3 linked regions of the Homo sapiens genome follow. The protein of the gene in region 1 interacts with the protein of each later gene in a pairwise test. Each region holds a gene or a part of one and is shown on either strand. Other genes may lie near its edges. The genes, in order: NRIP1, CEP70 and ARPC3.

Evidence for each region.
Region 2: the proteins of NRIP1 (region 1) and CEP70 interact in binary tests that used the Homo sapiens proteins (3 or more experiments, as listed by UniProt).
Region 3: the proteins of NRIP1 (region 1) and ARPC3 interact in binary tests that used the Homo sapiens proteins (3 or more experiments, as listed by UniProt).

Annotation. Positions count from the first base shown.
Region 1 is NC_000021.9:14,960,600-14,964,024, forward strand, and holds the end of NRIP1 (nuclear receptor-interacting protein 1), read right to left. Parts: 3' UTR 636-3,425; downstream 1-635. UniProt on the Homo sapiens protein: Modulates transcriptional activation by steroid receptors such as NR3C1, NR3C2 and ESR1. Also modulates transcriptional repression by nuclear hormone receptors.
Region 2 is NC_000003.12:138,570,102-138,573,760, forward strand, and holds part of CEP70 (centrosomal protein of 70 kDa), read right to left. Parts: intron 2,884-3,659; exon of another isoform or gene 2,832-2,883; 5' UTR 2,827-2,831; coding exon 2,758-2,826; intron 1,256-2,757; coding exon 1,165-1,255; intron 1,057-1,164; coding exon 933-1,056; intron 426-932; exon of another isoform or gene 398-425; coding exon 217-397; intron 1-216.
Region 3 is NC_000012.12:110,437,220-110,440,385, reverse strand, and holds part of ARPC3 (actin-related protein 2/3 complex subunit 3), read left to right. Parts: coding exon 1-74; intron 75-3,166. UniProt on the Homo sapiens protein: Component of the Arp2/3 complex, a multiprotein complex that mediates actin polymerization upon stimulation by nucleation-promoting factor (NPF).

The sequences.
Region 1 (3,425 bases):
TGTCTTTCTCATAAATTATCATTATTTGTAAAAATAAAAATTCCTAAGCTGTTAAGTTTACCTGGGTACAAAGTTTTTTTTTTTTTCTTGGAATCCACTGGTCTCTAATACTTATTGAGTATGTATGTTGCTTATCAATTACTCATTACCTATACACATACAGCATATATTTAAACATGTAAACACGTGTATATACATACACATTCATTTTTGGAAAATTATTAAACTCCTTTTTCTTTTATTTAAAATAAACCACACCCATTAAAAACTGGATAAAAGCCTTCTGATAAAGTCTTATCCTAAAATGAAGTGTGTATGTATATACATATAGTCAACATTAATTTTGAATACTGCACAAACTATTTTCTAGTTTAAAAATTTACAGTGATCAACTAGTTACACACTGAATCATGGGAGAAAGGCCATAGGCTGATTGTCACTTTGAGTTATGCCTTAATTACCCTGTTTCTAGTGCACTAACTTGCCAGCCACCTTCTTTTTTGTCCCCTTTATTTTTCTAAGAAGGGCAAAACATCCTTGAAGATCACTGTTATATTCATAGCAATGTGTTTTACGTTTATGGAAAACCTAAAAACCAGAGAAAGCCCACAAAATAACAGTCATTTCAAACCAGAGACAATGCATTTTTTCTCATTTATTCAAATTCACTGCAGGAAGTAAACACTAAAAGATTAAAAAACAAAACAAAAAAATTCACACTGCAGTATGTACAGTTTCATGACATCACATGAAGAAATTAAATTTCTAATAAAAATGGCAAATTATATTACTGAGCAGATCGCATCAAATTTGGTTGTGTAAACACCAGAATTCTTACTATGAATGGTAATGTGCCTATATTCCAGTATTGCTAATACTGGGATACTCTTGGAATAATGTTTGCAATGGGATTAAAAAATTCATGAAAGTAGTTGTGTGAATTCTTTATGTTTAAAAGTGGTTGACGATTAAAAAAATTCTTTAAGACCCTTCGAATCAAAGCACATTCTTTCACAAAGCTTAAACCACAGACGTCATGTCCAGAAATGGAATACTGTCATGTTAGGATGAACATCTGATCTGATTTGTTAAGACATTTTGCCAAATGCACAGATGCACAGGGTCCCCCATGCACTTTTCATGCAGCAGGTAATCACAACTTAAATAAAAGGTTTATTCTATACATTTGTCCAGACTTGCAACTGTATACATACATGCACAACTTTTAAACCTGTCTGATTATATTTACACTTATACATGGAATATACAGGAACCAAAGAGATTAAAAGGCTTTTCTGTTGCATTAGAACAATACAAAATATGTATTTTTCATTAAGGAAATCACTATTTACATCACCTTTAAAAACCGATTTTAACATCTTCATGTAACAAGTCAATATATATATATATACATATTATATATATATATATATATATATATATAAAATATATACTCTCACCAGTTTACTCTTCTGTAAGATGCAGCAGAGAATAAACAGGTAATGAATGCTACCTTACTGATGTCAATAAGCTGTAGTACCCTTTCACAAATGACTTTATTAGAAGAAATTGTCTAGATATCTAAAATAGTCCTTGAAAATGTGTATATGTGCATCCTTGTATCTACATATGCATAAACAAAGTGAATCTGTGGATGTATGCCCTTTCTCACTGTTCTTTAAAATCACCCTAAATTCAAATTGGGAACATTCTCTAGTAAATCAGAACAGCATTCTTCGTGGTCATGTTTATTTAAGTATTACATATTCTCATTCCTTTGTTAACAACAACGAAAACAACCAGCCAACCAAAAAAACAAAACAAAACCCACACACACACACACAAAAGTAGCAATGCTGGCCCTTGGTCTTTTCCCTGACCTAAATTTCACTCTCTTGTAAAAAGGTCATTTCCCCCTACCCAAGGGAGAATACCAACATATTTTTTCTGACATACCTCTAAGGCTCCAAACCTTCCACAACGATCAAGAAAAATGACTTGTTTAAAAGCTTATTTATATAGTGTTGACAATAAGATTGTCATAGTATGGACATGGAATAGAATATATTCAACTGGCCAGTGGAATTTTATGTCAGAATAAGCCTATGCCTTCACTTCTCCATGATGTTGCATAATACCCACTCCTATTACTGTATAATATTTCCAGTAGCTATTTACAAATCATTCTGAGGAAAAATAACCATTTAGGGTTTTAGATCATATTAGGAAATCACACCTATTTTTAATATAAAAATCTTAGAAACCACTTCAAGTAGAACAATTTTAAATCAATATCCTAACTAGTAGTGATTATAGAATAATTTTTGATAGGTCATTTGCTAACCTGGTTCACAATTAAGAACAAAATATCTGGTGAATGAATTGTGGATTGTACAAACTGAACATAAAAACAGACCTGTTTCGCAACTGAAACCCCATGTGGCTTCACTAATATATTAATTTCTTCTAAGACAGTATCAACATGTACTTTTCATCACTACTTTAAAGTAAAAGATCCAATGGAGTGATTGTGTACAATTCTGTCACGTATATGTGCCCTTTGTACTTTTTATTTAGTCAATCTGAGTTTAGTGCCCTTCTTGGGTTTAAACTAAATGTTGTAAGCTTTGTTGGCATTGTTCTTAGGACAATGGTTTTAATAAAGGTTAAGGATGCATTCAGGAGAAGTTTCCAAACCATCCTGGAATCACCTGAGTTTGGTAAGTGGCCCTGTTTTTCCATCCCTAAGGCTAACTAAGTAGATGTTACTCATTAGAACACACAAATAATCACAGATTTTCCTGAGATGTTGAGCCAGATATGAAAGTTATCCCCTCCACCCAATTTTTGTCATAAAAAGTGTTCTGAACCCGATTTCCAAAGACATAACGGTAATATATGAACTACAATATTGCAAATTTTGAGCTGATGTGTGACTGTATTGGGGAAAATAGAGGCATCACATAGTTTTTTGTTTTTGTTTTACAGTCTCATGTTCTGAGGAAAGTCATAAGTCATGGTTCTCAAACACAAGAAACACCTAGAGAGCATGTTAAGATGCAGATGGAAGATTCCAGGTCCACTTAGCAGAGATTCTTGTTCTGTAGATCTGAGATGCTGCCTATGAATCTGCATTTTAAAACAAGTGCTCCAGATGGTTCTAATGCAAGTGGTCTGAGTTCAGGTTTAAGGAATCCTGGTCATAACACTCGCAGGTACCACAGGAATGGTGAGAATTAACTTTTACAAGAGATGGTGAAAACTGTCCAAAGAAAAGCCATTTTGCTTCTGTTAAAAACAATTTCTTAAATATTCAACTTTTCAGGAAACCACCTAAAGATAAATGTTAACTTTTCTAATTCTGTAAAAGGAGGAGTATTAATTTAGTAAAGTAGTTAAAATACAAAAAATGGAAATCTGCCTTT
Region 2 (3,659 bases), on another chromosome or scaffold:
GAGAAAAAAAAACAGCAAAAGAAATTAGAGAATGATCAGTGAGGTCAGAGGGAAATAAAGGACATTCTAGAAACCAAGTGAAGAGAATTTCAAGGTAGCAGTGATAAGCCAAAAAAGGTAAAAACCACTGAATCAAACAACATGGAAGTCACCTGGGACCATAATGAGCTGTTTTAGTACTAACTAACCATCATCTAAGAATTCATAACTCAGTACCTGTAAAGTTTTCTGCTCCTTTTGAAGATCTTTTATTTTATTCTGTTGGTGGCAAGCCCTACTTAGTGATTCATCCTCCAATTCACCAATTTTGGATTTCACACTTTCCATAATTTGTTCCAAGTCATTAGCTCGTTGTTCTTGATTGGCTGCTCGGCTTTGCTCTAGCTGAAGTTCATTTCTAAGTTAATAGACATACAATTTCTTCCCTTAGTATTAAAAATAAATCGAATTACCAAGCATATCCATATAAGAATGTATTGCCTTTCTAAAGTTTCTTTGCATTCTCTTTATCCAAAATGCTTGGAACCAGAAGTGATTCATATTTCAGATTTTTTCAGATTTTGGAATATTTGCATCATACTTACTAGTTAAGCATCTCAAATCTGAAAATCCAAAATCCAAAATGCTCCAATAAGCATTTCCTTTAAGCATCATGTTGGTGCTCAAAAAGTTTCAATTTTTGGAGCCTTTCAGATTTTCAGATTTGAGATGCTCATCCTGCAACAGAAACTAATAGAAGAAATATAGGGTACCATTAAACATCTATGCTAAGCTATTACCAAAAGATTTACCTATTAAAATTTTACCTACAAAAATATTTTTTAGTTTAATATTTAATCAAAATGGGAAATTAAATTTCAAGATTTTTTTCAAGGCAGTTATTTTTAGAACGCATACAAACAATTCAAAAGAAATCTTTTCCATTTTCTCACCTAAGCTGTTGATTAGTTTCTATAAGCTCCTGTATCATGTTCTGTTGACATGATGTTTCTTCCACCAACAATTTCAAATTCTGTCTCATCCTTTGTGATGACTGTTTGTCAAAAATGATGAGATCTACATTTAAAAAGTATATAATACAGATAGTAAAAATAAAAGGCAAAAAAAATTTTTTAAGGAAAAATAAACTTTTTACCTTAAGCATCAAGAATAGGATCTAATTACCTTTGAGATCTGTTCTTTTGACTAGAGACAAAGGTTTTAAGCCATGCATCATCAATAGCACATTTATGCTTTCCCATTCTGCTTCTTCCTGCTACAATTACAGAAAGAGAAGAAAGGGTTAACTTTAGATATAAAGTGAAGAAATTCTCTCATATATAATTTCCTGCATTTTCAGAATAGAACTTTTTCTTCAAAAGTTTTAAGTATAAATGTTTATGCATATATAATATCCAAAAAACACATTTATTGTTTCTAGCAAAATTAGTAATAGACTAGAAGTATGTAAATAAGCACAAATTGTTGCATTATACAGAATACTCATATGTAGGCCTCAATGGACAAAACCAACAACAACAACAAAAACACCTTGTAATTTCAGTGAATCAAATAAATCTAAGGTTTTAGATTTAACTAAGCCAAACCAAGCCCTGCTCAGAATAAACAGCTGTAAACTAGGCTATAATAACTGGATAGTAAAGAAAAGAAAAGGTGAGTCACTTCTAAGTATCACTTTCTTTTTTCTTTCTTTTTGAGACAGAGTCTTGCTCTGTCACCTAGGCTGGAGTGCAGCGGTACGATCTCGGCTCACTGCAAGCTCTGCCTCCCAGGTTCACACCATTCTCCTGCCTCAGCCTCCCGAGTAGCTGGGACTACAGGCGCCCGCCACCACGCCCGGCTAATTTTTTGTATTTTTAGTAGAGATGGGGTTTCACCGTGTTAGCCAGGTTGGTCTGGATCTCCTGACCTGGTGATCCACCCGCCCTGGCCTCCCAAAGTGCTGAGATTACAGGCGTGAGCCACCGCCCCAGCCCCTAAGTATCACTTTCATAATGACTAGGGTCACAAAAAAATCAAAACATACCTGACTAGTTGGAGCCAATATTTCAGACAGCTCCTTGTCAAATGGACAAGGTCTAACTATAAAAAGGAGCCCGTCCATCTGGATAACTGACTCTAACAGAATCACCCTGAAAGACACTCTCAAAGTCAAACAAGTCTTTCTTTTTGACTGTTGACTTCTTCCTCCTTTTTTTTACATCTCCTCCCACTCATAACTTTTCTCTCATTTATGCTTTAGTCTTTCTGATCACAGAGTTTAACTACGTGGTAGACACAACTAAAATTAACATTGATGTTGTTTTAGGAGCCAAAAGCTCTGAGTTAGTGTCTCAGAACTTCTACTGTAACTCATAAAAACAAAATGCTCTATACATAATAAAGTCACATATTTTGAATGATTAACTTATACATATTGTTTCCTGATACCTCTTACATTTTAAGATAAAGTAATTGTAAATTCTGAAAATAGTTGGGAATGGCATTTTCCAAAGTACATGCTACAGAACACTAGTCTAATGAAATGTTCATCAAACTAGTGTTAAGTATGTATGAAATGCTGTATACTAAATCCTCCCTTTGGAGACTAATATTGTGAAGTCTTAGAGTAATTAAACCATTTCATAGTCTTTAACCCAGCATTTCCTAAAATTATTTGAGAAAGAATCCTTTTAAAGTCAAATTTTCCTGTTTGTAGATGTAGCATTCTTTGGCACATATTTTGAGAAGCAGTGTCTTAAAATATTTTAAGTTTACCTGTTTTTCAGTCATGAGTCTGTCTGATGGTTGACTGGAATCCTGGGGTTTAGGGGCTACCGGAAACATAGTTACTTTTGTAGAATCAAAAGAAACAGAAATTGGCAATTAAAAAATTTGAGTTGCCTAAATGAAAAAAGACAAAAAGTGCAAAAGGAGTTAAAGAAAAGTATATTTAAAAGAATCCACTACTCTTGCAGGGCAATTCAGGTCATTCCTGCGTCAAAACTTTGTGACTTCTTAGATAGCTGATTGTAAGACTCATTTGAATAAACCCTATCTTATAATGTTCTCCTCTGGAAATAAAGCATTCTGGGATTTTACACATATACCACACACACACATACACTCTGTCCTGTCTAACCCCCCACCACAGAATGCATAACTGGTACCCAAGAACAGAGGAAAGAATGGAGTAGAAGGAGCATTTGAAGAGCTAATGGCTAAGAAAAATTTGAGAATCAATGAAAGACATAAATCCACACATTCTAGAAACCCAACATATTGCAACTGGGATACAGTAAAAAAAAAAAAGAAAAAAGAAAAAAAAAGTCAGTCATACCTAGACACTAATATCTTCAATGTGCTGAAAGAAAATAATTGCTTATCTAAAATTCCAAAGCCAGTGAAAACATTCATTAACGAATAATAAAGGCAAAAGTAATATATTTTCAAACACATGACACAAAATAAATCTGAGAGTGTTCATTGCATCTGCTCTGTAAAAAAATTCTAAAGAAGCTGCTTCATGCAGAAGACTCCCTGATGGAAAAGCAGAGATGTAGAAAAAAATAGAGCAAAAAAATGGGCGAGTTTAAACACAGACTACATAATGAGATCTTGTGAAGTATAAAATGTACAATTAAAATGCACAGTAACAGAAATATATTAGCTGAGAGTAG
Region 3 (3,166 bases), on another chromosome or scaffold:
AAGATACAGATATTGTGGATGAAGCCATCTATTACTTCAAGGCCAATGTCTTCTTCAAAAACTATGAAATTAAGGTAAATTACGGAGCTTTTAATATTTAACTTAGTTTTCTCATAGGGATAATACCAACCTTGCTATCCAGATTGCTGTGAGGAGAAAATAAAATGAAATCAGCATGTAATTTTTAAATTCGAGAGCAGTGCTTAATGTTAGCTTTTGTATAAATATTAGTTTCTTTTTTTTTCCTCCAAATTCTATACCAGGGGTTGGCAAACTCTAACCTGAGGGCCACATTTGGCCCACTGCCCCTTTTTATGAATAAACCTTTATTGGAACACAGCCACAACCATTTGTTTCTATATTATCTATAGTTACTTTCACACCAAAACAGCAGAATTGAGTAGTTGTGACAAAGACTGTATGGCCCACAAAACCTAAAAATACTGCCTGCCTTTTACAGAGAAAGTTTGCCAACCCCTTGCTAGAAGTATCTTTATTTATTCAACATTAGTTAAGCAGCACCTACTATGTGCCAGCCTTTTGTTTTGTTTTGAGACAGGGTCTTGCTCCGTCGCCCAGGCTAGAGTGCAGTGGCACAATCACAGCTCACTATACCGTCAACCTCCTGGGCTCAGACAGTCCTCCTGCCTCAGCCTCCCAGGTAGCTGGAACTACAGGCATGCACCACCACACCTGGCTAATTTTTTGTATTTTTAGTAGAGACGGGGTTTCACAATGTTAGGCAGGATGGTGTCTCGATCTCCTGACCTCATGATCCGCTCACCTCAGCCTCTCAGTGTGCTGGGATTACAGGCGTGAGCCACCGCTCCCGGCCCTAAAATGGAATTTCAGCCCCTCCTTGCCAAACTCTGAACTTCTGGAATCAAACAGGTTGTGAATTATTTATTTGTAGACTCTTGGTGTACAAATTGTAGTCTAAACATTCTGTGATGGTAATAGAATGTTTTCTATATCTCATGTGTGGGTTAAGTTTGTAACAGTTATAAATGTTACAATTCTCTGGGCACATTGCTTGAGTTCAGGAGTTCGAGACCAGCCTGGGCAACATGGCGAACCCCCGTCTCTACAAAAAATAGAAAAATTAGTGCATGGTGGCTCACGCCTGTAATCCCAACACTTGGGAGGCTGAGGCGGGTGGATCACATGATGCCAGGAGTTTGAGACCAGCCTGGCCAACAAAGCGAAACCCCATCTCTACCAAAAATACAAAAATTAGCCAGGTGTAGTAGTGCATGCCTGTAATCCCAGCTACTCGGGAGGCTGAAGCACAAGAATTGCTTGAACCCAGGAGGTGATGGTTGCAGTGAGCCGAGATCACACCACTGCACCCAGCCTGGGCGACAGAGCAAGACTGTCTCAAAAAAAAAACAAAAAACTCTGCCACATTTCATTTGTTCCCAGATACTATATTGTCTTAAAAATAGGGAAATGTGGCTGGGCGCAGTGCCTCTGCCCGTAATTTGGGAGGCCAAGGCGGGCGGATCACCTGAGGTCGGGAGCTTGAGACCAGCCTGACCAACATGGGGAAACCCCGTCTCTACTAAAAATACAAAATTAACTGGGCGTGGTGGTGCGTGCCTGTAATCCCAGCTACTTGGGAGGCTGAGGCAGGAGAATCACTTGAACCCAGGAGGCAGAGGTTGCGGTGAGCCAATATCACGCCATTGCACTCCAGCCTGGGCAGCAAAAGTGAAACACTCAAAAAAAAAAAAATATATAGGAAAATGGTGTGGTTTGGGGGTAATTTTTTTGTTGTTTTTTTGTTTTGAGACAGAGTCCCGCTCTGTCACCAGGCTGGAGTGCAATGGCGTGATCTCGGCTCAGTGCAACCCTCGACTCCCGGGTTCAAGTGGTTCTCCTGCCTCAGCCTCCCAAGTAGCTGGGATTACAGGCACGCGCCACCACGCCAAGCTAATTTTTGTATTTTTTGGTAGGGACAGGGTTTCACCACGTTGGCCAGGATGGTCTCGATCTCCTGAGCTCGTGATACACCCACCTTGGACTTCCAAAGTGTTGGGATTACAGGTGTGGGCCACCGCACCCGGCCTTTTTTTTTTTTTTTTTAATTCGAGACAGAGTCTTGCTCTGTTGCCCAGGCTGCAGTGCAGTGGTACAGTCTTGACTCATTACAACCTCTGCCTCCTGGCTTCAAGCGATTCTGTGGCCTTAGCCTCCCTAGCAGCTGGGATTACAGGCGCACGCCACCATGACTGGCTAATTTTTGTATTTTTAGTAGAGACGGTGTTTCGCCATGTTGCCCAGGCTGGTCTCAAACTCCTGGGCTCAAGCAATCCACCCACCTCAACCTCCCAAAGTGCTGGGATTACAGGCATAAGCCACTGCACCTGGCCTAAATTTGTGTAAAATTTGACCCAAAGTCCATACCACATTTGATCAACATTCATTTGTCTTCTCCACATTTTCTTTTTGGTTAGGTCAAGACATTGAGATTATGGAGTTCTTTGGGAGCAAGTCAAATGTGAAATAGTTGCTTCCTCCTTTAGAGTAATGACTATTTCTGTTCTCGGCAGAGACCCTGAAGGGAAGGGTTTTTAAAAATTAGCCAACCATATGGAGCAGTTCAGGCTTTCCAGGCAGCTTTGTTACTTCTTCCTATACAGTGAGGGGCTGTTGACACAGATCCTTGGGAACCCTGGGGCAAGGGGAGCCGAGAAAAACAAGAGAGAGCAGCCACTCAGCCGAGCGTGGTGGCTCATGCCTGTAATCCCAGCACTTTGGGAGGCTGAGGTGGACAGATCACTTGAGGTCAGGAGTTCGAGACCAACCTGGCCAACATGGTGAAACCCCGTCTCTACTAAAAATAGAAAAATTAGCCAGGCGTGGTGGCGGGCACCTGTAATCCCAGCTACTCGGGAGGCTGAGGCAGGAGAATTGCTTGAACCTGGGAGGTGGAGGTTGCAGTGAGCTGAGATTGTGCCACTGCACTCCAGCCTGGGCAACAGAGCAAGACTCCGTCTCAAAAAAAAAAAGCAGCTGCACATCTCAGAGTGGGGCTTGTGCCTTCCTCCCAGGGGCAGACGGAAAAGGAGACTGAGGAGACTGTGCATTTGGAGAATGGGAGTTTTGATGTGATAGTGGCTGTCCTACCACTGCATTCAGCAGATAATCAGAAGACAAAGATGGA